7 linked regions of the Homo sapiens genome follow. The protein of the gene in region 6 purifies or fractionates together with the protein of the main gene of each other region. This does not show direct contact. Each region holds a gene or a part of one and is shown on either strand. Other genes may lie near its edges.

Region 1 (3,500 bases), on a different chromosome or scaffold from region 6:
GGCCAGTAGATCACTTGCGGTCAGGAGTTCAAGACCAGCCCGGCCAACATGGTGAAACCCTGTCTCTACTAAAAATATAAAAATTAGCTAGGCATGGGGGTGGATGCCTGTAATCCCAGCTGCTCAGGAGGCTGAGGCAGGAGAATTGCTTGAACCCTGGAGGCAGAGGTTGCAGTGAGCCAAGATGGCACTACTGCACCCAGACTGGGCTCAGTCTTAAAAAAAAAAAAAAAAAAAAAAAGGCCGGGCGCGGTGGCTCACGCCTGTAATTCCAGCCCTTTGGGAGGCCGAGGTGGGTGGATCACGAAGTCAGGAGTTCCAGATCAGCCTGGCCAATATGGTAAAACCCCGTCTCTACTTAAAATACAAAAATTAGCTGGGCGTGGTGGCGCACACCTGTAGTCCCAGCTACTCGGGAGGCTGAGGCAGAAGAATCACTTGAACCCTGGAGGCGGAGGTTGCAGTGAGTCGAGATGGTGCCACTGCACTCCAGCCTGGGTGACACAGCAAGACTCCGTCTCAAAAAACAAAACAAAACAAAAAACAAAATCCCAATAGATTTTCTTAGTGGAAGAGATGGTAGGTCTGTTCACCATTCACAGGTCAGGTCCTCTTTTTTTTTTTTTTTTTGAGACAAGTCTTGCTCTGTCGCCAGGCTGGAGTGCAGTGGTGCGATCTCAGCTCATTGCAACCTCCGCCTCCCGAGTTCAAGCGATTCTCCTGCCTCAGCCTCCCAAGTAGCTGGGACTACAGGCGTGCGCCACCATGGCTAGCTAATTTTTGTATTTTTCATAGAGACGGGGTTTCACCATGTTGGGCAGGATGGTCTCAATCTCTTGACCTTGTGGTCCGCCCACCTTGTTCTCCCAAAGTGATGGGATTACAGGCGTGAGCCACCATGCCCAGCAAATTTTTTGGCAGACAACTTAGAGTGAAGACTGACTGAATTAATTAATTAATTTTTGAGATGGAGTCGCACTCTGTAACCCAAGCTGGAGTACAGTGGCGCAATCTCAGCTCACTGCAACCTCTGCCTCCTGGGCTCAAGAGTTTTTGGTGCCTCAGTCTCCTGAGTAGCTTGGACCACAGGCATGCACCACCATGCTCAGCTAATTTTTTTGTATTTTAGTAGAGAGTACAATTTTTTTGGTATTTTGTATGTTGCCCAGGGTGGTCTTGAACTCCTGAGCTCAGGTGATCTGCCCGCCTTGGCTTCCCAAAGTGCTGGGATTACAGGCGTAAGCCACCGCGCCCAGCTCACAGGTCAGGGCCTCTTATCTCTGACAGCCCACAGTGAGCAACAATATTGACAATAGGTGTGCTTTATATCATGCTAAATCTTTTTGGGAAATTAAAATCTGTGAGTGTTTATAGGAATGTATGACATACATAAATGTCAGCATACACTTTGCAGTGGGTAAAAAAGAACTTCCAGATAATAGGAAAATGCTCATATTCCTTACCACATACAGCCCTTATGGCCTGTGAGCTCTGATCCAGCTACTTGCCGGCCTTCCACCACCACCTGCCTCTAGCACCCTATCCCTTTATCTTCCCTAGACCAAGCCCCCTGCAGATCCCCAAAGAGGCCATGCTTTGCTTTTTTAGTGGGGAGGGATGGAGTCTCACTCTGTTGCCCAGGCTGGAGTGCAGTAGCGCCATCTTGGCTCACTGCAACCTCCACCTCCCGGGTTCAAGTAGCTGGGATTACAGGTGTGCACCACCACACCTGGCTAATTTTTCTTTTTTCTTTCTTCTTATTATTTTTTTTAATTGAGACAAAGTCTTGCTCTGTCGCCCAGGATGGAGTACAGTGGGACAATCTCGGCTCACTGCAACCTCCGCCTCCTGGGTGCAAGCGATTCTCATGCCTCGGCCTCCCGAGTAGCTGGGATTACAGGCGCCCACCACCACACCTGGCTAATTTCTGTATTTTAGTAGAGACGAGGTTTCACCATGTTGGCCAGGCTGGTCTCAAACTCCTGACCTGGTGATCAACCTGCTTTGACCTCACAAAGTGGTGAGATTACAGGCATGAGCCACCGCGCCCAGCCTAATTTTTGTATTTTTAGTAGAGACAGGGTTTCACCATGTTGGCCAGGCTGGTCTCAAACTCCTGACCTCAAGTGATCTGCTTGCCTTGGCCTCCCAAAGTGCTGGGATTACAGGCATGACCCATGGGGCCATGCTTTTCTGCACTTCCAAGCCTTCCCTTGCTAGTGCTCGCCTCCTCAGAGCTCACTGCACACTGTGAACCTGCCACATTTGACTGCATTTGTTTGACTCCATGTCTATTACTGTTTGGACCAGGGATCAGATTTGGCCCAAATAGACTCTCCCTCTGGAGCATCTTTGGAAAAAATTCTAACATTCTACAGCTGTCAAATTCATCCCAGGCTGCCCCAGCCAACTCACCACCCATATTCATGCCCTCCTCATCTAGGTCCTGTCCACTGTCATAGCGAGTCTTTTTCTTGGGATCAGAGAGGATAGTAAAGGCCTCTCCAACTTCCTTGAACTTCTTCTCCTCCTCCTTCTGAACCTCAGCACTGGCTCCACTATGCCGATCTAAAGTGGGGAGTAAAAGAACAACTCAGTGGAAATCAAAGTTTCAAGAAAACAAAGTTTAAGAGAAAAACTACTTTCTGTCTAATTTTGGAATTTGGCACTTCCCAAAATTTGGAGGGTCCACAAGTCTGCAACACCTTATTCTCAGCTGAAGGACCTCTCCAAGGGGTCCCCTCTGGACTGAGTGTGGCAGTTGGCCTGCCCTGCGGGTTCTTCCCACTGAGCCCACTCCCCGCACCTACTCTACCTGGATGGTGCATCAAGGCCCGTTTCCGATAAGCTTTCTTGATCTCGTCCTCAGAGGCATTCTTGTCCACTCCTAGAATCTTGTAGTAATCTTTCCTCTTACTCTTCTTCAGTTCCAGCTGCGCATTTTTTAGGAGCTGTTTGTGTTCTACAGGAAGACATCTGGCATCAGTGGACAAATCTGACTCTGGTTTTTTCCTCACCAGGTCTCAGCCCAGCTGCCTGGGAGTTAGAGGCCTTGTTAACCATGCCAGGGACTTTTACGGTGCTTTCTTCTGGAGATTAGAAAAAAAATCTACTCGGCCAGGCACGGTGACTCATGCCTGTAATCGCAGCACTTTGGGAGGCCTGCATCAATGAGAGATGCAGGTAAATGAGACAGAAAAGGGAACTCTAAACACAGGTTTGCTTCTATTTCGGTAGCACGAAAGAAAGGAGGGGCCCTTGGCCCAAGATGGGAGGAATCAAGCTTGACAGAATGGATCACCCGAGGTCAGGAGTTCGGGACTAGCCTGTCCAACATGGTGAAACCCCATCCCTACTAAAAATACAAAAAATTAGCCAGGCGTGGTACCATGTGCCTGTAATCCCAGTTATTCGGGAGGCTGAGGCAGGATAATTGTTTGAACCTGGGAGGCAAAGGTTGTAGTGAGCTATGATCATGCCATTGCACTCCAGCCTGGGTG
Region 2 (3,500 bases), on a different chromosome or scaffold from region 6:
AACCCCCATCTCCACTTTGCAGAGCTAACCACTGCTACCAAAGATACTCTGCTCACACAGAAGCACAGGACTCTTACCCACACATACCTTTTTAAAAATACTTCATTAAATACTTTCGTTACTCTACTCTTAGATGAACTTGAATGTCATGTTATATTAAGTATCAAGTTATATTAAAAACTTCCTTTTTCAAAAGTGGCAGAATACAACATTGAGTCTTCCCATCCAAGACAATTGTAAAGCCTCTTCCTGTCTCAGGCTCTGTTTTGGTGACATGCTCAAGTCTTATAGTAGATTTTAAGACACTCATGAATGGGATGTGTATGTACCTTGATTTAGTAGTGCTTAAATACTTGTTGAAGGAATGATAGCTTTAGGCTGAGCTAGCTCTACTTTTGTGATGTTATTTGTACTTACTTGATGTTCAATCCCTACACTCTTGTTTTTTCTGTCAGAAAATATGGTCTACTTTGCCGGGCGTGGTGGCTCACGCTTGTAATTCTAGCACTTTGGGAGGCCAAGGCAGGGAGATCACTTGAGGTCAGGAGTTTGAGACCAGCCTGACCAACATGGAGAAACCCCATCTCTACTAAAAACACAAAATTAGCCGGGCGTGGTGGCACGTGCCTGGAATACCAGCTACTCAGGAGGCTGAGGCAGGAGAATCGCTTGAACCTGGGAGGTGGAGGTTGCGATGAGCCAAGATCTCACCATTGCACTCCAGCCTGAGCAACAAGAGTGAAACTCCGTCTCAAAAACAAACAAACAAACAAACAAAAAAAAAAACAGAAAATATAGTATATTTTATTGTATTTTCTAGGAACAGAAAGCTGAAAAAGTGAGTCTTGTCTCTATTGGTAAAAGTATACCTTAAATACATTCATACACACACTCCTAATTAGCATATTTTTGATTAAATGAGAATGTGCTTTGACTTTAATTCATTATGTTCCTTCAACAGAGAAATTGGACTTGACATTTCATTCTTTCAATTACCCCCTCTTACAGGATATTAATGCACACGCCTGTGTTACTGGTAAACCCATCAGCCAAGGGGGAATCCATGGACGCATCTCTGCTACTGGCCGTGGTGTCTTCCATGGGATTGAAAATTTCATCAATGAAGCTTCTTACATGAGCATTTTAGGAATGACACCAGGGTTTGGAGATAAAACATTTGTTGTTCAGGTAAAAACAAAAACAAAAAAAGTTTCCTTAATAACTGATAGACATTAAGTAAAGTTTTCAATGTTTTTAGAATTGTAATTTTAAAATTAAGTTATCTCAAATCTCTTAAATTTTAGAGTGGTGGTTTTCAGAGTAATAGATATTTTGTTTTTTGAACCTTGGTATGATTCATGTAACTAGAACTGATTTAAGTATCTCTCAAGTACATGTGAAACTGTTACCAACTTCAACCAAACTATCACCAAATTCAACCAAAATATTGGTTAGTATTCAAACTTGAAATTATAGCTAGAAGGGCAAGTCTCTTAACATAATTTTCTAAGTTTTGTAAGTATATAGAAAGGTTTACACACTGACCCAAATTTGTTTCATGTGTTAACATGTATTTTACTTAGGAGAATCTTAATTAAGTTGAAATTACTTGAAAATAGAAGTGGTGGCTGGACACAGTGGCTCATGCCTGTATTCCCAGCACTTTGGGAGGCCAAGACGGGTGGATCACTTGAGGCCAGGAGTTCGAGACCAGCCTGGCCAACATGGTGAAACCCTGTCTCTACTAAAAGTAGAAAAATTAAGCCGGGCGTGGTGGCTCACGCCTGTAATCCCATCACTTTGGGAGGCCAAGGTGGGCAGATCACGAGGTCAAGAGATCAAGACCATCCTGGCCAACATGGTGAAACCCGGTCTCCGCTAAAAATAGGAAAATTAGCAGGGTGTGGTGGTACACGCCTGTAGTCCCAGCTACTCTGGAGGCTGACGCAGGAGAATCACTTGAACCCGGGAGGTGGAGCTTGCAGTGAGCCGAGATTGCGCCACTGCACTCCAGCCTGGGTGACAGAGCCAGACTCTGTCTCAAAAAAAAAGAAAGAAAAATTAGCTGGGCATGATGGCGGCACCTGTAATCCCAACTACTCAGGAGACTAAGGCAGGAGACTCACTTGAACCCGGGAGGCAGAGGCTGCAGTGAGCCAAGATTGTGCCATTGCACTCCAGCCTGTGTGAGAGAATGAGACTCGGTCTCAAAAAAAAAAAAAAATTGTATTTCTCCAAATTAGTGACATCCCTTTTCACAACATAGGACATCTGATCATCAAGGACTGAGGACCTGGTGGTGTACTTAACACCACTGCCATTTATTGATTGATTGAGATGGAGTCTCACCCTATTGCCCAGGCTGGAGTGCAGTCTCGGCTCACTGCAACCTCCACCTCCCAGGTTCAAGTGATTCTCCTACCTCATTCTCCCAAGTAGCTGGGATTACAGGCACGGACCCCATGCCTAATTTTTGTATTTTTAGTAGAGACGGGGTTTCACCATGTTGGCCATGGCTGATCTCGAACTCCTGACCTCAAGTGATCCACCTGCCTCAGCCTCCCAAAGTGCTGGAATTACAAGCGTGAGCCACCATGCCCGCTCATCACATTCTTAAACAGAGAATTTTATTGTTGAAGAGAAACCAGTTAGTACATTGTTTCTTTTGGCAAAAGAATTTTGAGAATTGCTTCTAAATAAACAGAGTATGGATTTACATTGGTCAAAATATGACTCTTGCTGTCTATACCAGGACTTTAATTTTTGTGTTATGGGTAATTGTTCTTCACAGGGATTTGGTAATGTGGGCCTACACTCTATGAGATATTTACATCGTTTTGGTGCTAAATGTATTGCTGTTGGTGAGTCTGATGGGAGTATATGGAATCCAGATGGTATTGACCCAAAGGAACTGGAAGACTTCAAATTGGTATTAATACATTTTTATAGCATAGACACTAAATATAAATATTTAAAACTCTGGTGCAGCTATTAATTGTGATTTTCAATCAATGGCAGCAACATGGGTCCATTCTGGGCTTCCCCAAGGCAAAGCCCTATGAAGGAAGCATCTTGGAGGCCGACTGTGACATACTGATCCCAGCTGCCAGTGAGAAGCAGTTGACCAAATCCAACGCACCCAGAGTCAAAGCCAAGGTGACAACATTATAGAAACCAGAACCAACATTATCAATGTGAATGACGTTAGGGGGGTCATAGAAGAGTCTGATTGAGTTTTCTCTTTCTTTTTAGCAGCTTTATTGGCACATACTGCACATACCATACAGTTCCCCCATTTAAGGTACATAATTTAATGGCTTTTAGCTACCGGCACAGAGTTGTGCAACCATTACCAAAACAAACGCATCTGCCTGACACTCCTGTAAAAAAAAAAAACAAGCAAACAAAAAAAAAACCTAGATAAATAGAAAAGTGAAAGGTAGTTTTATACACTTGGCAGAGAAAAATAACCTCTATTTAACTTTAACTGAAACTGTGCT
Region 3 (3,500 bases), on a different chromosome or scaffold from region 6:
TTGCTTTAATCAGGATCCCAAGTGGGACGGCATTTTAAGCAAGTGAAAAAATTTCTCTGTCTCCAGTTTGTCACACTTTGTATTTCACTCTATGGACTGTGAGCGTGGGGCATGTTTTCCTCTATGAAGGCTGAGACTCAAGGCAGAAGAGGTTTCATTTAAGACCTGAGGCTGAGACAGAGTGAGCCTGGTTAGAATGCCCCATGCGTGCCTAACTCCGGCAGGCAGACTTCAGGCACTGTTGGCTCCAGGCTCCACACAGCCACCCCTATCATTTTCTATGGGTGGGTCTTTAATTTGGGGCTTAATAGAAAGCGAGTCCATTGAGGATGAGTTAATCCACATCATGGAGTGGTCGCTATGTTCCTTTCATGACCTCTTTAGGCTCACGTGACTGCCGTGAGCATAGGAAGGACGACGGGGACAGCAGCCACGGTGGCCCAGCAGTGTGAGGCCTTTCGGGTGCAGCTGCAGCTGCCAGAAACCCACTGTCTGGGCCCTGTGTCCGCTCACGCCGTTTTCTCTCTCCCGACTCTCTGCTGCTGGAGCCTGTGTGCAATACAACCTCATCCCAGTGGCCAGGCTTCGGGGCCTCCCCTGGGAGGGCCGGGGAGGAGTGGTTCACAGGGAGATGGCAGGAAACTCTGGAGGGAGGCAGAAAGCATGGCGTGCACGGGGCGCCTGTGGGGCGTCCACCTGTGTGTCCTTCCCCATGGGAGGCAGAAAGCATGGCGTGCACGGGGCGCCTGTGGGGCGTCCACCTGTGTGTCCTTCCCCATGGGAGGCAGAAAGCATGGCGTGCACGGGGCGCCTGTGGGGCGTCCACCTGTGTGTCCTTCCCCATGGGAGGCAGAAAGCATGGCGTGCACGGGGCGCCTGTGGGGCGTCCACCTGTGTGTCCTTCCCCATGGGAACCCCTGTCAATCACACCAGCACCCTCCACCTGGGGCTGACTGGGGGCCACATTTCTATCTGCGGTGGTGATGTGAGCTCCCAGTCCCAAAGAGCTCTCTTCCAGTGAGCCACAGCCGCCCTGCTCCTTCACCCCTGCCCCTCTCCTCACCCCTGCCACTGCCCCTTCACCCCTGCCCCTCTCCTCACCCCTGCCCCTCTCCTCACCCCTGCCCCTGTCCTCACCCCTACCCCTGTCCTCACCCCTGCCCCTCTCCTCACCCCTGCCCCTGCCCCTTCACCCCTGCCCCTCTCCTCGCCCCTGCCCCTTCACCCCTGCCCCTCTCCTCGCCCCTGCCCCTTCACCCCTGCCCCTCTCCTCGCCCCTGCCCCTTCACCCCTGCCCCTCTCCTCGCCCCTGCCCTGCCCCTTCACCCCTGCCCCCTCCTCGCCCCTGCCCCTTCGCCCCTGCCCCTCTCCTCTCCCCTGCACTGCCCCTTCACCCCTGCCCCTCTCCTCACCCTGCCCCTGCCCCTTCACCCCTGCCCCTCTCCTCGCCCCTGCCCCTCCTCTCACCCCTGTCCCTCCCTGCTGTCACCCAGCACACCTTTCACCACCTTCTGATGTCATTGGGAAGCAGCTCTTAGGAAGTTAGGCAAAGATTCCTGCCCAGAAAGAGGCCAGTTCAGTTTGAGACAGACTTCTGTGGTTTTGTTGCATTTGTTGCTAAGAACAGGATTAGGAATTTGAGAGCTTTAATTTTCTGTCTCCACAGAACCGTGCCCGGAAAAAAAGGCTGAATATTATTATTGTGGCTGAAGGAGCAATTGATACCCAAAATAAACCCATCACCTCTGAGAAAATCAAAGAGGTGAGTGTGTGTAGCTGCTCACTTTCTCTCGGTTTCTGCCTGGAAGCAGGGGAGGCTAGCGTCATGGGCAGGCTTGGTTTAGAACATTGAATTATTAACTTTTTATCCTTGATATTTAAAACATTTTCATAATGACTCAGAAGTTGGACGGCAGGGGAAACACGCAGCTCCCGCTCCTGGGAGCCCATTCCGCTTACGTCACCTCTTGCCGAGCCCGTAGAGGTTCCGGGACTCCCCAGCAGACAGAGGGGGTCAGCTCGAGTGGCCACGCGTGTTCTTTGGATTAGAATGTTCCGGCTCTTAAACATGAGCTGCTCTGAGAATGAGGACTGACCACTTGGCAGCCGACCCGGGCTTCTGTTTGCCACAGTGGGAAAAGGCGGCGTCTTGCTATTCCCTGTGCCCTCCCATAACCCAGAGCATCAGCTGAGCACATTCTTACAAAGCCACTGTGTCCTCGTGGCCCTGCCTGGGAACAGGCTTTGGCAGGCTTTGGCAGGCTTCGTGCCCTGGGACTTGCTCAGGCCAGTGCCTGCCTGTCTGGAGAGGACTCTGATACCATGGGCTGTGCCCCTGCTGTAGACGGGGCTGCAGGCTGCCGGGGCTGGGGATGGGCTGTGGCTCCAGCAGCCACGGGGCAGAAGACGTCCCCACCTGGCTTTGCAAGTCGGCTTCTTTATTGTGCTTTGTTATGGTCAGTTAAGGAGCAAAGCATATCTCTGGATATGAAAACAGTGATGGACACCTGGGAAAGACATCTGCCAATATTTATAAGTGGTCATCCATAAAGTCCAGGCAAAGATTTTATTTCCCGCTTAACTGTAATTAAATTATAGGACAATGGACCGAGAAGGAACCAAGGAATTTACGTAGCCCAGCCCCACTGTCCTTACAGAGGAATAAGCTGAGTTCCAGAGACAGTCAGTGGCCTCTCCAGATCACCGGGCCGGTGTGCCCATGGGCTGGGGCGAGGGGAACGCCTTGATTGGGCTGGCTTGTGCTGTTCAAATCACAGCTGAACAAATTAAAGCTGGTTCAAGGAAGATGTTTACATTTTTTGTAAAATATAAGTAATAGTTTAAATGCAAGCTACTGAAACGTTACTTTTTTATTTTTCTTTTTTAAAGCAACGAACATATTACTTGTATTCATTTTCTAGGTGCGAGCCAAGATCTTGTCTGGTAACAACAGTATTATTTTTAAAACCAATTTTCAGCTGCCTGTTATATACACTAAACGTTCTGCTAGGAAACAAAATTTAGAAATAACTTTTCCCATTTAGATCTGAAGAAAGAGCGAAAAACCTTTTCCAGTGCCCAGTACCTCCTTCCAGATCTGGGCTGCTGTGTCCGCATCACAGTTCCGCATCCTAACGAGATGTTTCCTTGCAGCTTGTCGTCACGCAGCTGGGCTATGACACACGTGTGACCATCCTCGGGCACGTGCAGAGAGGAGGGACCCCTTCGGCATTCGACAGGATCTTGGTGAGTTGGGAAGGGTTGGGCATCTTCACAAGGTCTCTAGGAGGAAGCGTTTCTGGAGAGGCACAGGCACCAGCCGGCCACAGAGGCTGGCAAGGTGCTCCCCGAGAGATGCCCGCGGCCCGGCCCTCATCTTAACGATCCTTGAGACCTTTGGTGTAGACCAGTCTCTAGGCCTGCAGCCATTCAGATGCGGGGAGAGCTCCCTAATGTGGGAAGGCAGTGCTTGGTGTTGGCACGACGTGGACCCCAGAGGG
Region 4 (3,500 bases), on a different chromosome or scaffold from region 6:
CTATAGGCATAATGCTGTACAGTAGTAGGTCTCTGGAACTATGCATTTTGTGTAATTGGAATTTGATACCTATTTAACAGTAGCAACTCTGCATTTTCCTTCCCCCCAGCTCCTGGCATCTACCATTCTACTCTCTATTTTTGTGTGTCTGACTATCTTAGGTATCTTACATAATCTTAGGTATCTCATATAAGTGGAATCATGCAGTATTTGTCCTGTGACTGGCTTATTTCACATAGCATGACGTGCTTCAGATTCTTCATTGTGTTTTGTCACATAAGGCAGATTTTTTTCTTTAAGGCTGAATGATACTTTTAGGCTGAACACATTCCATTGTATGTTTGACTATCTTTTTAAGGTCCTTTCCCATTCTAAAATCTGGGTAATCATGTATTTTTGAAGTTTGATTTTTTTTCCATGCATATGTGATTTTATTTTTCTAAAATTTAAACATTACAAAAATGGTTTAAACTTGAGAAAATAAGTTTCTCATCATCTGATAATAGTTTAAGTTTAAATCATTTCTTGGTTCTTCACAATATCTAAAACCATGATGAGAATACCAGGCCTGGCACAGTGGCTTGCTCCTGTAATCCCAGCACTTTGGGAGGCCGAGGCAAGGGGATCACTTGAGGCCAGGAGTTCAAGACCAGCCTGGCCAATATGGTAAAACCCTGTCTCTACCAAAGATACAAAAACTAACTGGGCGTGGTGGCATCTGCCTGTAATCCCAGCTACTCAGGAAGCTGAGGCAGGAGACTCCCTTGAACCCGGGAAGCGGAAGTTGCAGTGAGCCGAGATTGTGCTGCTGCACTCCAACCTGGGCAACAGAGCAAGACTCCATCTCAAAATAAAAAAGGCTTGGCATGGTGGTTCACGCCTGTAATCCCAGCACTTTGGGAGGCCAAGGTGGGTGGATCACTACAGCCCAGGAATTCGAGACCAGCCTGGGCAACATGGTGAAACCCCGTGTGTACCAAAATACAAAAAATTAGTTGGGTGTGGTGGTACGCGCCTGTAATCCCAGCTACCCTGGAGGCCGAGGCATGAGAATTGCGTGAACCCAGAGGCGGAGGTTGCAGTGAGCTGAGATCACGCCACCATACTCCAGCTTGGACGACAAAGCTAGACTCTGTCTCAAAAAAAAAAGAATACCTTAATACATGTTCCACCTAACTTAAGATAGATAGCTGTGCAACTACAAATGAATCCCATTCTTTTCCTTAACCACCAGAGGTAACCACTACTCAAGTAGAATTTTTAATGTTTGTCAAACCTGTTGCATGAATAGCTTTGCTTTTCTTTAGGGAAAATTTAGTTTTAATTTCCATATGGGTTTTTAGGATTTTGTATAATTACCTATAATCTTCCTTTTCCAGAAGGGAAAGATGCTTATATTTGCATTTTGCATTTTTTGATATCTGTGGCAGACTTAAGGTTTATTCTGAAGCATACAGCATTAATAATTAGGGCCTAACTTAACATCATTTTTAAAACTAATTTTTACACTTCAAATAGATGATGAACAACATGGGTGGTGATGAGGATGTAGATTTACCAGAAGTAGATGGAGCAGATGATGTAAGTCTAAAAATTCTTTTTTCTGTTTACTTTCATACTATTAAATAGTAAGAAACAACATATTTACAAATGGTTTTATATAGATTCACAATTACTTCTTATTTTCTAAAAAAAAAGAAAAGGGAAAAGCAATTTTTAAAATGTGCCCATTTTTGACGAATGGGGGTATCTATTAGGGAACTGGTTGTACCGTAGACCATTCCTAAATGGATTAGATTTCCAAAGAATCATTGTATAGAGACATTATATATTAATACCGTACTCAATTATAACAGTCAGTTTAGGCCGGGCGAGGTGGCTCATGTCTGTTATCCCAGCAGGCCAGGTGGGCAGAGTACGTGAGGTCAGGAGTTCGAGACCAGCCTGGCCAACATGGTGAAACCCTGTCTTAAAAACTTAGCCAGACATGATGGCAGGTGCCTGTAATCCCAGCTACTGGTGAGCTGAGGTGGGAGAATCGCTTGAACCTGGGAGGCGGAGGTTGCAGTGAGCCAAGATCACACCATTGCACTCCAGTGTGGGCAGCAGAGCGAGGCTCCATCTCAAAAAGAAAGAAGAGAGTCAGTTTATAGGTATGATTTTGACTAAGAAAGTAAGTTAAATAGGTTTTATGTCAGGATTGGTCAGAGACCGATAAAACAGATGGACATTGGGAGGCGGAGATGGGTGGATCATGCGGTCAAGAGTTTCAGGCCAGCCTGGCCAAGATGGCGAAACCCCATCTCTACTAAAAATACAAAAATTAGCCGGGCATGGTGGCGGGTGCCTGTAATCCCAGCTACTTGGGAGGCTGAGGCAGGAGAATCGCTTGAACCCGGGAGGCAGAGGTTGCAGTGAGCCGGATCTCGCCACTGCACTGTAGCCTGGGTGACAGAGCAAGACTCCATCTCCCCCCACCCAAAAAAAAAAAAAAAAAAAAGATGGACATTGGAAATCTGTAAGAGGAAGATACACTAAACTACTTTTCTCAACATCTTTCCAACCCCAGCATCCTGTTAACATCTCCCAGAAAGTTATTTAATGCTATTTAGAAAAACACTTAATATTCACTCAACAGCTAGGATTAGAGTTCACTGTCTTCTATCAGTCCATTTTTCTTCATATTGATCCATGTTTTCTCTTTGAATGCCGAGATAGGTTAATTTAGGAATGGATTCAACGGGTGGGCTAAATTGTCACCAAAAGGCACACATCATTTTTTATAGGTAGATAAATCCTCTGCTGTACATCCATTCACCTTAGGTAAACCTAGTCAAGTCCAATGACTAAATTTCTAGGCTTGATATGACTACCTACCTGTGCTACTTTAGTCAAAAATATAGCACTTGAACTTTTTTAGGTAAACTGTTCAGTTAGCAAACGAATATTTGATCAGCTCGGTAACTTTATTTTCCCTCTTTCAGGATTCACAAGACAGTGATGATGAAAGTAAGTGTATATAAAAAGTATGTTTATACAGTGATACTTTGCATCAAAAAACAAACTCAAAATAGAGATGTTAACTTCTTTGGAAGTAAAGTAATTTTTTCTTTATGACCTTGAATAAATAACCAAAGCAGAAATGTGAATAACTTGATAGCAAGACAACCTATTAATTCATTGGGCAACTATGTATTTCGATTTTTGGTTGCTTTTCCTTTAAGACAGTAAAATTGGTAGATTATTCACTTGTACTATATACTAATATTTTTAAAAATTCTTTCAGAAATGCCAGATCTGGAGTAAGGAATATTGTCATCACCTGGATTTTGAGAAAGAAAAATAACTTCTCTGCAAGATTTCATAATTGAGAGAATTCCTGAGTTGATAGCTCTAAAGGCAGATATGCTGTATTTGCCTACTTTAACCCATTTTTCAACCTGTTTGTTTTTTAAAAGGCTTCACTAAGGGTTGATATGTACCATTGTATGGGGCAATTT
Region 5 (3,500 bases), on a different chromosome or scaffold from region 6:
GCGGATGCCAGCTCAGCTGTGGGCTTCTGCTCCTCCCTCCGCCTTCTCCCCAACCAGGTGTCAGGGCCCTGGGGGCCAGGAGGGCAAGTGCCTCAAGCAGGCAGGGGGTCAAGGGATAGTGCGCGCTGCGGGGCGCATGAACATCCCCACTCTGGCCATGGCGGGCTTCTAGCCTGACAGCCTCCCTTCCCCACCAGCTGGGCTGGGGGACAGGTGCCCCTGCCCCATCTCAGGGGCTGATCTGAGGGACCACAGAGCTACTTCCTCCGGCTCAGGCCAGGCCAGCCTGGCCCCCTCTGGTTGTACCAGCCCTGAGCTAGGAACAAGGAAAACAGGAAAATGATCCCAAACCCACAGCCCCACCTGAGCAGGAGGCCACCAAACACAGGTCTGTCTGCAAAACTCAGGATCCAATACAGAGCCCAGGCGCCAGCCAGGCCCCTGCCCCACTGGGCGGAGGGGCAGGCAGGTATGGCCAGCCCAGCAGTCCCCAGAGACCCCACAAGGCCAGTGGCTCAGTTCTGCTGGAATCAGTCTCACAGACACAACCTCCTCCTACCCTTGGAATCTTCTAGAAGCTGTTTGCCCCCCTCTACCCACTCTGTTTCCGTCTCTGTCCTCCTAGGCCCAGCTCACCTTCCCCTCCTTCCCCTCTAGCCCCGCCCCCTCCTCTCACCCCTGCAGGCCTGGACCCAGGCTCAGGGCCCTCCCTGCTATGCTGTGGGCTCTGCCTGGGGGGATAAGAGTAGCCTGTTCTGAGCCCTCCTTTGTGTCAGAACTGAGAAGGGTTTTCACCTCCAAGGCCACCCTCCCTTTCTGCCCTAACAATAGCCCCAAGGAGAAGGGATCGGTCTCCCTGCTGAAGGAAGCCAGCGCTGGGGGCTCAGAAACCCAAAATGCAGTCTGATGTGAACTGACGCAGCCGCAGGTCTCCCTGACCTCCCCCTTCTGCCTCTCGACCCTCTGCCTCCTCCAAGCTCAGGATGCAGCTGCTCCCTGAAGCCCCCGAATCTGCCTAAAGCCCATAGCTGCTGGAGAAAGGAACAGTGACGGCCAGTCCCCTCCCTGAGTTTCCATGCACTGAGGTCATCGTAGGAAGAAAGACCTGTGTCTGCCAACACACTTGGGCAGGTGGTCACCAGGGCTAACAGATGCTGTCCAAGCCCATTGAATCCCCTAAAAACCATTCATGGCCGTGCACAGTGGCTCGCGCCTGTAATCCCAGCACTTTGGGAAGCAGAGGCGGGTGGATCACCAGAGGCCAGGAGTTCGAGACCAGGCTGGCCAACATGGTGAAACCCCGTCTCTACTAAAAATACAAAAAACAGCTGGGCGTGGTGGTGGGTGCCTGTAATCCCAGCTACTCAGGAGGCTGAGGCAGGAAAATTGCTTGAACCTGGGAGGCAGAGGTTGCAGCGAGCCAAGATTGTGCCACTGCGCTCCAGCCTGGGCAACAGAATGAGACTCTGTCTCAAAAAAAAAAAAAAAAAAAATTCCTACCCCCCTAGAATCATCCAGGCTGCCCATGCCCCTTTCCCTGGGAGGAGGGCAGGTCAGCATCTTCGCCCTACCTCTCCATGCCTATTCACAATGAATGCCAGCACCTCTGCCCTATTAATCCGCTTTTCGCAAGTGGATTCTTCCAAGAACCTTCATGGGACGGAGGGGAAGTCTTCCCTGGGCCGCTATATCAGAATGTCTCATCTCAAAATCTGCCTCTTAGATGTGGATGTTTCTGAGCTAAAGCCCACTAGGCAGCAGATTCAGGGAAGCTCTCAGCCTTGCCTCCCTTTGAGAGGAAAGCAGCACACAGCATCCCAAGACTAAGGCTCCTCCTGTTACCGCCTGGACAGGATGTAAATGCCCCTCACAGCCCTCAGGACCCAGAGACAGCCCCAGGACCCGCGCCCACCCACTTCATTCTTTTTCCCATAAACTCACCCTCCTGCATTCCCCCACCTCCGAGGGCCTCACGCTGCGTCCCTGTACCCCTCGGCTTCTCCATGTGCACTGGTCTCTGCTGGGCTCTGCAGAAGCCAGGACTCTAGGCACGGCAAAGTGCCTCTTCTCCCCTTTTCCAGGACACGCCCTGCACCGATGAACCTGTTTTCTGTCTTTTGCCACAGGAGTCTTTCCCAACCACAAATGTGTGGGGGTTCCGGAAAACCCTAATTTCTCCCCTTTGCCACTTAGAAGAAGAAACTGAAGGTCGAGCAGGTGGCAGGAGGGGTTTGTACGGACACAGCCCAGCCTGCCTAGAGAGGCCCCCACACCCAGCTCCCCAGGGCTCTGAGACCTGCTTCCTAATCCAATACTGGCAGGGCCCCAGCCTGGCCACAGGGAGAGGACGGGCCAGCACAGACTGCCCACTCACTCATTCATTCACACAGTCCTGCAGAGGGAGGGCTGGACAGGCTGCTGTTCCCTGGGGCCAAGATGGGGGAACTGAGACCCAGGGCGGTGAGTGGTCAGCAGCGAGCAGTGAGCAGTGAGGGGGGTGGGGCTGAGTGCCTGGGGCTGCAGAGCTGGGGTTGCTACATTTTATATAAACAGCTACATATTACATAAAAAGTGGCAACAAAATAACAAAAGACCTTGTCTTGTGGAATGTGGAAAACCACCTGACAAGGCAAGAATGCAGCCTGTGAGTGCGTGGTGTGGCCCAAGTGTGTGAATGCGCCTGTGTGTGCACATGTGTGAGCGCAAGTGTGGGTGTGTAAATACCCAGGACGGAGGGCGAGCCCCAAATCTCCCACGGGGACTGGGGCTGAGGCAGTAGGGCATCCGCTGCTCCTGCGGGGACACAATGAACATAGACACAGCAGAGCTGCTGCCAGCGGCTGCCCCCCGGGTCTGGGTGGTGAGGCAGGAGGCTGGGGAGGACAAGGGCAGAGGCGGTGAGGTCCCTGGCCCCCACTCACAGAGGCCTCGGGGCGGGACAAGGGCCAGGCTGGGGGACACCAGGCAGGGGTGTGGTGGGTGGGGCCTGGCCCGTCAGCGATCACTGTAGGCAGGGCCTCGACTCCTTGTCCACCCAGCTCCTTCCCTGCCCCCAGGCCCGTGCTCTGCAGCCTCTGAGCCTCCAGCCGGGCTGAGTCCCAAGGCAGTAGGTCTTCTTTCTGCAGATGCCTTTGGCCTGGCCCCAAGCTCCCCCTCACACTCCCCAAGACCACATACCCATCAGCTCCTCCAGGCCAGGACCACCCCGTCTCCCAGTGTGACCCACACAGAACACACCTCGGCATGCGCCTCAGGAGGTCCCCACTCCCTGCACACACACAGCCCACCTTGGCCTTACCTCGTAGATGAGGAAGACTTTGGCACCCACATAAATGCCCATGCGCGTCACAGCCCGGACAGCAGCGTTCATGCCTGTGGAGGTCAGGGCAAACCTGTCAGTCCCACGCTGAGAAGCAAGGCCCTGGACACCCTCCCCATCTCAGAGGACAGGGGGTAGGGGAGGCCTGGACACCCTGTCCATCTCAGAGGGCGGGTGGTGG
Region 6 (3,500 bases):
TGTGAATTATCTTTATTTCTGTGGCTAAGCCACTAGATTGTTTTTTCTGCCACTTGCACTGGAAGCATCCTGGCTGATACTACAAGAGCCCCTGAGCCCCAGCCCTGGCTGGGCCCCGCCCTCAGCAGGAGTGGGCTGCACTCACGTCAGGCTTGAACGGCGGCTCCAGCATGCCAGCTCCCAGCCGCTTGAAGTTCAGCTTCTTAAAGAGGGGGTGCTCCTTCACCTCGCGGGCACTGCCCCCACGACACCCCAGGCGTTCGGCAGGGTCCTTGCAGAGGAGCTGTGGCAGGGGTGAGTCGGCCAGGCAGGCCAGGCAGGTGAGTGGGTGGGAGGGAGGGAAAGGTGCATCCACCCCAGCCCTGGCTGGCCAGGCTTCTGTGAGCTGCCGTACCTGTGAGCAAAGTGAGCGGGCCTGCGGGGAAAAGCGCTCGGAATACTCCTCGGGGACCTCCTTCACCAGCCGCTCCACCTCCTCCCGCTTGATCTTCTTCTTCCTCTGCTGGAAGGGCGACTGGCCTGCGATCATCTCGTACAGGAGGCAGCCGAGCGCCCACCAGTCAGGGCTGAACGTGTACCGTTCATTCTTCACCACCTCCGGAGCTGGGCGGGCGGCATGGGAGTTAGGGCTGGGCAGGAGGCGGGCAGTGGACCCTCAGGCCCCAGGAACGCCAGTGCACGTTAGGTCTGGGATACACTCACACCCGCTGGCCAGGGGGGACCTTGGCCAGTAGGAGAGCACAGGCCCCATCAAGCGGGGTGAATACGGCCCTGCAGGAGGCCGCGCCCAGGGTCCCCGGGTCTTCAGATTTTACACAAGAAGTCAGAAATCTGTATTTTGTATGTGAAACCATCTGGCTTACTAAAAACAGTTTGACTTAAACACAAATGTAGGCCAAATTGGGCCCATGTGGCTACCATTTTGCAACTTCTGGATTTAATATCAGCGAGAAGAAGGAAACTCCTATTTTCTGAATACCTCCTACCTGCCAGGGCAGCCCTGTGGGGAGTTTTCCCTGAACTCTCCCTTTTCATCTTCCAGGCAGCCCTGGGAGGCAGGTATGATGAGTGTTTTCCAGTGGAGCAGAGTGAGGCCGGGAGCAGCGGAGTGTCTGGTTCAAGGCCACGCAACCGGCAAGAGGCGGAGCCTGCAGAGCCAGGACTCTGCCTCCTGCGTCTCTCGGTCTCCAGGTGGAATGTGGGGCCTCATGTTGGCCCCTCCACTGGCCTCCCTCACAGATGGGCACAGGGAGGGCAGGGACTGGGGCCACGGAAACAGGTTTGGGTCTCTCTCCTCCATCCCCCGGTAGCCACCTGCAGGCTCAGCCATAGCAGGGTTTAATAAGTATTCAGCAAATGAACGACATGGCTTCACAACTGTGTGCGGCCCCGGCTGAGTCTTGGTCTCCTAACCTCTAGAAGAGGAGCATCGGCATGGGCCCTTTCTACTGAGGCCCCTTTTGAGAGAAGACTCCCAGACAGAAGTGGGTGTGGCTGGGTGGGTGGATAGTGAGGGAACCCAGGAGGCTAGTGGGCCGGGCAGAGAAGACTCACCCATGTAACCCACGGTGCCCACACGCCCTTTGATGGTCTGGCCCTCGGGCACATGCACAGCTAGTCCCAGGTCAGAGATGCGGATGTGGCCTGAGTGTGGGTGGAGAAACAGGTGGACCCGTTAACAGGCCAGGCCTCTGCATCTCACCCCACCCTGACCCACCCCAGGCACCCTTACACACCGTGGTCATCCAGCAAGATGTTCTCGGGCTTCAGGTCCCTGTGCAGAGAGAAGAGCAGGGTCAGATGCTGCTCAGTTTGCCAGGGAGTCAGAAGGGGCCAGCCCCCCCAGCTCACTCGCCTCCGGGGGCCAGGTGTGGAGCAAGGTGCGAGACTCATTTGCTGCCAGGGCGACAGACAGCCCTGCTCTCCCTGGCAACAGCCCGGACTCAAGGGAGCAGAGGAAGGATCTAGAGCCAGGACTCCCAGGACTCTCTAGATGAGTGGAAGACAGCTCCACCCCGGAGGGGCCTCCCCAGTGGAGACCAAGGAGTCTCCACCCCTTGGTGACTGACTCTGCCTTTCCTCTCTATCAAATGGGACTACTCATCCGTCCCCTGACTAGGCTGTTGTGAGGTTCACAGGAAGTCGGCAACAATCAGAGCCAGGGTTCTCTCTTACCCAGCCCCATGTGCCAGGCACTCTGTACTTAGCTCACTGGGCCCCTCCAGTAGGAAGTTGGGCCTACTTCTAACAACCTGGGAAGTAGGAATTATAGTCTCTGCTTCCTAGAAAAGGAAGCAGTGTTGGGAGCAGGGAGCTCCTGGCCCAAGGTCACACGGTGGGGGGTGGAGGGGTGACAAAGTCAGGATACCCCGTGGGTCCAGCAGAGCCCAAAGCCTAGGTCTGGGCTACTCAGGTTGGCCTGGCGTGTGAGTTAAGCCGGTGCCACAGCCCCCAAACCAATGTCCTTCTGTAGTCTGGCCTGATCGGCAGCCTTGGCCACCCCCGTCCAGGCCCAGCTGCAGTCGCTGGCAGGGAAGGACTAAGCCCCTGGGGTGGCCGAGCCCTCCCCACCTGTACACGATGCGCTCCCGGTGCAGGTCCTCCAGGCCACAGCAGATCTCGGCGGCGTAGAAGACGGCCCGCGCTTCGGGGAAGCCAGCCTGGCCCATGTGGTAGATGTGGAACTTGAGGTCGCCCCCGTTCATCAGTGTCAGCACCAGGCACAGCGCGTCCTTGGTCTCATAGGCGTAGGCCAAGCTCACCTGTGGCCGAGGGGACCCGAGCCCTCAGGCAGGAGCTGCGGGGCGCTTGGCGGCAGGGCTGCCCAAAAAAGCCTTCTCGGTGCCACTCCTTGGGCCCAGCCTGCTCCCCAAGCCTGGTGTCAACACCCCAAACCCGCCCTTCCTGGCATCCCACATGGGAGGGTGGGGCCTGGGGGGTGGGGACGGTCGGTGCGCCAGTGTGGCCAAGGGGAAGGGAGAGTCTCCTTCTGTACTTACTACAAACCTACTGTTCACTTTCTCCAGGATCTGCTTCTCGTTCAGCGCCATGGCCTCCCCTTTCCGCTTCTTGATCCGCTTTTTCTCTAGCTTCTTGCAGGCATACATCTTACCTGTGGCCCGCACCTGGCAGGCGCACACCTGTGGCCAGACAGACAGGGGCGAATGGGGGCCAGCTGTGCCATTGCTGGGCATCCAGGGGGTGGTCCAGGTCCCAACACACCCACCCTATTCACTCTCCCAGGGGCTCTGGCCTGGCCACTCACCTCCCCAAAGCCACCTTTGCCCAGGACTCGGTATTGCCTGAAGGTGTTTTTGGTCACTGGCTGCCTGTGGCAAGGGGTGGGGAAGCAAACGCTGGCTGAGCAGGAGAGCCCAAGGCCTATGAAGAACCCCGGCGACCTGGCCTGTCCCGGCCCAGCCTTCAGGGAGCTCACCTTTCCAGCCACTTCCACTGCAGGAAACGGTTGAAGTAGATGCTGTCGAGGTAGTCGGCAAAAG
Region 7 (3,500 bases), on a different chromosome or scaffold from region 6:
GCTAGAAGTTTATCCTCTAGCTATCTAGTCATCTTTTGGTATATACATGAGAGACTGGCTCCAGGACCTCCTGAGGATACTAAAATCTGTGGATGCTCAAGACCCTTATATAAAATGGTAAGAGTATTTGCATACAAACTATGGACACTCTCCTGTATACTTTAAATCATCTCTAGATTACTCATAATACTTAATACAATCTAAGTGCTACGCAAATAGTTGTTACATTGTATTGTTTAGTGAATAATGACAGGAAAAAAGTCTATACATGTTTGGTACAGTTGCTATTTTTTCCCCCAAATACTTTTGACCTGCAGTTGCTTGAATCAAGGATGCAGAACACACAGATATGGAGGGCTAACTGTACTGTGAAAGTGCAAAATAATGCATGTATAACGTTATTCAATACAGCATTATTCGTAACAGTAAATGACTGCAAACAACACATGCCCATCAATAAGAAACCAGTTAAATGAATTATAGTACATCCATACAATGGAATTCTCTGTAGCTACTTTTATTTATTTTTTAATCTTTTTTATTTTTATTTTTTGAGACAGCATCCTGCTCTGTTGCCCAGGCTGGATTGTATTTTTAGTAGAGATGGGGCTTTTGCCATGTTGCCTATGGCTGGTCTCGAACTCCTGAGCTCAAGTGATCCGCCTGCCTTGGCCTCCCAAAGTGCTGAGATTACAGACATGAGCCAACACACCGGGCCTGTAGCTACTTTTAAAAAGACAAATGAAGAAAGACTGAAGCTACATATATACTGATAATGAGTCAAGATCTAAAATAACAGTGTGTATAAACAGTGTATATAATATGTGCGTAGCATTGTTTTTAAAGGGAGGGGGGATTGTTTTTATTTGCATTTATTTACATCTCTGGAAGATATAAAAGGAACTAATAACATTTGTTGCCTTCAGGGAGGGAAAATGCATAGTTAAGGGTTGAGAGGTAGACTATTGTTTTAAAAGAAATATTTCATTTTGGAATAATTTTACATTTATAGCAAAGTTGCAATGACAGTGCGGAGTTCCCGTATAGCCATCACTCGGTTTCTCTTAATGTTAACGTCTTACATGGCACACATCTGTGAAACTATGTACGAGTGTCAAAACTAAGAGATTAGGTTAGCACTGATACACACTATTAACTAAACTCTAGGCTTTATTCAGATTTCAATAGTTTCTCCACTAATGCCAAATTTCTGTTCCAGGATCCAATTAAGAATACCAAATTGCAGTTAGTCATCTTGAATTCTTAGTCTCTCCTGGTCTGTGAAAGTTTCTTAGTCTTTCCTTGTTTTTCATGACCTTGATAGTTTTAAAGAAGTACTTTATAGAAGGTTCCCCAATTTGCATTTGTTTGATGTTTCCCTCATGTTTAGACTGGGGTTATGGGTTTTAAAAAAGAATATCACAGAGGTGAAGTACCCTTCTCAACATATCATATCAGGGATATAAGATAGTAACATGGCTTCTCCATCACTGGCAATGTTAATGTTTATCACTTGGTTAAGGTATGTCTGCCAGGTCTCTGCACTATAGTTACTACTTTTCTCTTTCTGGTACTCTTTTATTTGTAAGGTATTCATTAAGTCCAGCTCACATTCAGTGGGGAGGGGAAGATTAAACTCCACCTCCTGGAGGGAGGAGTATCTACCTATATTATTTGGATTTTTTTTTTGAGGCAGGGTCTAGCTCTGTGCAGTAGTACAATCATGGCTCACTGCAGCCTCGACTTCCCAGGCTCAAGTGATCCTCTCACCTCAGCCTCCCGAGTAGCTGGGACTACAGGCATGCACCACCATGCCCGCCTAATTTTTGTATTTTTTTGTAGGGACAGGGTTTTGCCATGTTGCCCAGGCTGGTCTCAAATTCCTGGGCTCAAGTGATCCACCCACCTTGACCTCTCAAAGTGCTGGGACTACAGATGTGAGCCACTGCACCTGGCCTTTAAATGCAATTTTAGCAGCACAATAGTAACTCACATATATTGAAGAGAAGCATCTTAGAATGTATTTTCAAGGGAGAAACAGGGTAAAAGGCTAACAATCTTCATAAGGCTTTGGTTCACATTGAACACTTATAGCTAAATAAGGTGTGACAACCAGAGAATTACTTCCAGCAGCCTGTTCTGGGTTCCTAATCCACCTACCTCTAAATGCAGAACCTTAACTAGTCAGCTTGTGCCAATGCTGGAAAAAGTGAAAGAGAGGTCTGAAGAAATCCTAAACTTCCAGTTCTCCTAAAGTCTGTGGTCTCACAGCAACAGTTATGAGCTGACCTGGGCAGAGGCTCACTCTAGCACCACAGTAAGAAGTCGTCCAATGAGACTGAGGAAAATGAGAGCTCTAGTTAGGACTTATAGCTCGTGACTGGCACCAATTTAGACATCAGGCACTCTTAGCCCACTTGTGCCAGGATGTGGAAGGCCCAGCTGCTGCCCCAGCTCCTGAGAAAGAGCCAAGGGAAAAAATGAGCAGACTGTAAGGGTGGGGGAAGGGGTAGCAGCCAGACTAACAGGCCAAACAAACCAAGTTGGGTTCTATACCCAATTCCTTAATGGCAACACTTACATGAACTGAAACACCTATTTCTGGGTTACGAACCACAAAAGGGCATTGCAACATTTGGGAAGGTAGAAAAGGGTACTTTCTTGGAACAGCCTGGCTATAGTACAGAAAACTCTGCTGAAACAACCCATCTAAAAACTAATTTCAATAATGGGCACAGAAGGAGTTAATAATTGTACAGATGAAGCCATAGGGGACTAACAACTGTTAATAGCAAAGGATATCAATGAACTGAATCATTTTTCTTCAGCAATACCATCAAAACCCTCTGTGGATGTCAGGCTAGGGTCTATATTTGGAACGAAGGCTCTAAGACAAGAAGTGCCAAATAGGGCCCATTCAGTACCTTCTATTTTTTCATTTTTTTAAAAAAATTGAGGTAAAGGCCGGGCGTGGTGGCTCACGCCTATAATCCCAGCACTCTGGGAGGACGAGGTGGGTGGATCATGAGGTCAGGAGATCGAGACCAGTCTGGCCAATATGGTGAAACCCCATCTCTACCAAAAATTAAAAAATTAGCTGGGTGTAGTGGCATGCGCCTGTAGTCCCAGCTACTCAGGAGACTGAGGCAGAAGAATTGCTTGAACCTGGGAGGCAGAGGTTGCAGTGAGCCGAAATCACGCCTGGGCGATAGAGCGAGACTCCGTCTCAAAGAAAAAAAAAGAAAAATGCTTCTTTGGCATTCTGCATACATTAATATGAAAATGGCTGCTTTATAATTACAAATAAATAGCCATTTGCATGTGGTTCCTTGAATCCCAGTATGTGGGTGAACTCTCCTGGCAAAGCCCTTTAGTCTTCATATAGCTTTCACAAAATTCTTGAATTAATGCAGCACAAACATAAAAGTGACTATAAGGCCGGGCACGGTGGCTCATGCCAGTAATCCTAGTACTCTGGGAGGCCGAGGTGGGTGGATCAC

What was found.
Region 1: the proteins of GRK6 (region 6) and DNAJC7 purify together in Homo sapiens (affinity purification with mass spectrometry; one large-scale study listed by BioGRID and IntAct). This does not show direct contact.
Region 2: the proteins of GRK6 (region 6) and GLUD1 purify together in Homo sapiens (affinity purification with mass spectrometry; one large-scale study listed by BioGRID and IntAct). This does not show direct contact.
Region 3: the proteins of GRK6 (region 6) and PFKP purify together in Homo sapiens (affinity purification with mass spectrometry; one large-scale study listed by BioGRID and IntAct). This does not show direct contact.
Region 4: the proteins of GRK6 (region 6) and PTGES3 purify together in Homo sapiens (affinity purification with mass spectrometry; one large-scale study listed by BioGRID and IntAct). This does not show direct contact.
Region 5: the proteins of GRK6 (region 6) and PFKL purify together in Homo sapiens (affinity purification with mass spectrometry; one large-scale study listed by BioGRID and IntAct). This does not show direct contact.
Region 7: the proteins of GRK6 (region 6) and MMS19 purify together in Homo sapiens (affinity purification with mass spectrometry; 2 studies listed by BioGRID and IntAct, with this or other methods). This does not show direct contact.

The regions. Positions count from the first base shown.
Region 1 is NC_000017.11:41,979,440-41,982,939, forward strand, and holds part of DNAJC7 (dnaJ homolog subfamily C member 7), read right to left. Parts: intron 2,963-3,500; coding exon 2,816-2,962; intron 2,569-2,815; coding exon 2,416-2,568; intron 1-2,415. UniProt on the Homo sapiens protein: Acts as a co-chaperone regulating the molecular chaperones HSP70 and HSP90 in folding of steroid receptors, such as the glucocorticoid receptor and the progesterone receptor.
Region 2 is NC_000010.11:87,060,344-87,063,843, reverse strand, and holds part of GLUD1 (glutamate dehydrogenase 1, mitochondrial isoform a precursor), read left to right. Parts: intron 1-1,008; coding exon 1,009-1,188; intron 1,189-2,791; coding exon 2,792-2,929; intron 2,930-3,018; coding exon 3,019-3,156; intron 3,157-3,500. UniProt on the Homo sapiens protein: Mitochondrial glutamate dehydrogenase that catalyzes the conversion of L-glutamate into alpha-ketoglutarate. Plays a key role in glutamine anaplerosis by producing alpha-ketoglutarate, an important intermediate in the tricarboxylic acid cycle.
Region 3 is NC_000010.11:3,105,548-3,109,047, forward strand, and holds part of PFKP (ATP-dependent 6-phosphofructokinase, platelet type), read left to right. Parts: intron 1-1,666; coding exon 1,667-1,762; intron 1,763-3,153; coding exon 3,154-3,246; intron 3,247-3,500. UniProt on the Homo sapiens protein: Catalyzes the phosphorylation of D-fructose 6-phosphate to fructose 1,6-bisphosphate by ATP, the first committing step of glycolysis.
Region 4 is NC_000012.12:56,664,285-56,667,784, reverse strand, and holds part of PTGES3 (prostaglandin E synthase 3), read left to right. Parts: intron 1-1,518; coding exon 1,519-1,581; coding exon of another isoform or gene 1,582-1,629; exon of another isoform or gene 1,630-2,978; intron 2,979-2,984; coding exon 2,985-3,009; intron 3,010-3,286; coding exon 3,287-3,306; 3' UTR 3,307-3,500. UniProt on the Homo sapiens protein: Cytosolic prostaglandin synthase that catalyzes the oxidoreduction of prostaglandin endoperoxide H2 (PGH2) to prostaglandin E2 (PGE2).
Region 5 is NC_000021.9:44,306,553-44,310,052, reverse strand, and holds part of PFKL (ATP-dependent 6-phosphofructokinase, liver type), read right to left. Parts: intron 3,373-3,500; coding exon 3,299-3,372; intron 2,794-3,298; coding exon of another isoform or gene 2,725-2,793; intron 1-2,724. UniProt on the Homo sapiens protein: Catalyzes the phosphorylation of D-fructose 6-phosphate to fructose 1,6-bisphosphate by ATP, the first committing step of glycolysis.
Region 6 is NC_000005.10:177,433,176-177,436,675, reverse strand, and holds part of GRK6 (G protein-coupled receptor kinase 6), read right to left. Parts: coding exon 3,437-3,500; intron 3,330-3,436; coding exon 3,266-3,329; intron 3,141-3,265; coding exon 3,000-3,140; intron 2,763-2,999; coding exon 2,572-2,762; intron 1,775-2,571; coding exon 1,737-1,774; intron 1,645-1,736; coding exon 1,555-1,644; intron 604-1,554; coding exon 395-603; intron 284-394; coding exon 146-283; intron 1-145.
Region 7 is NC_000010.11:97,488,423-97,491,922, forward strand, and holds part of MMS19 (MMS19 nucleotide excision repair protein homolog), read right to left. Parts: intron 1-3,500. UniProt on the Homo sapiens protein: Key component of the cytosolic iron-sulfur protein assembly (CIA) complex, a multiprotein complex that mediates the incorporation of iron-sulfur cluster into apoproteins specifically involved in DNA metabolism and genomic integrity.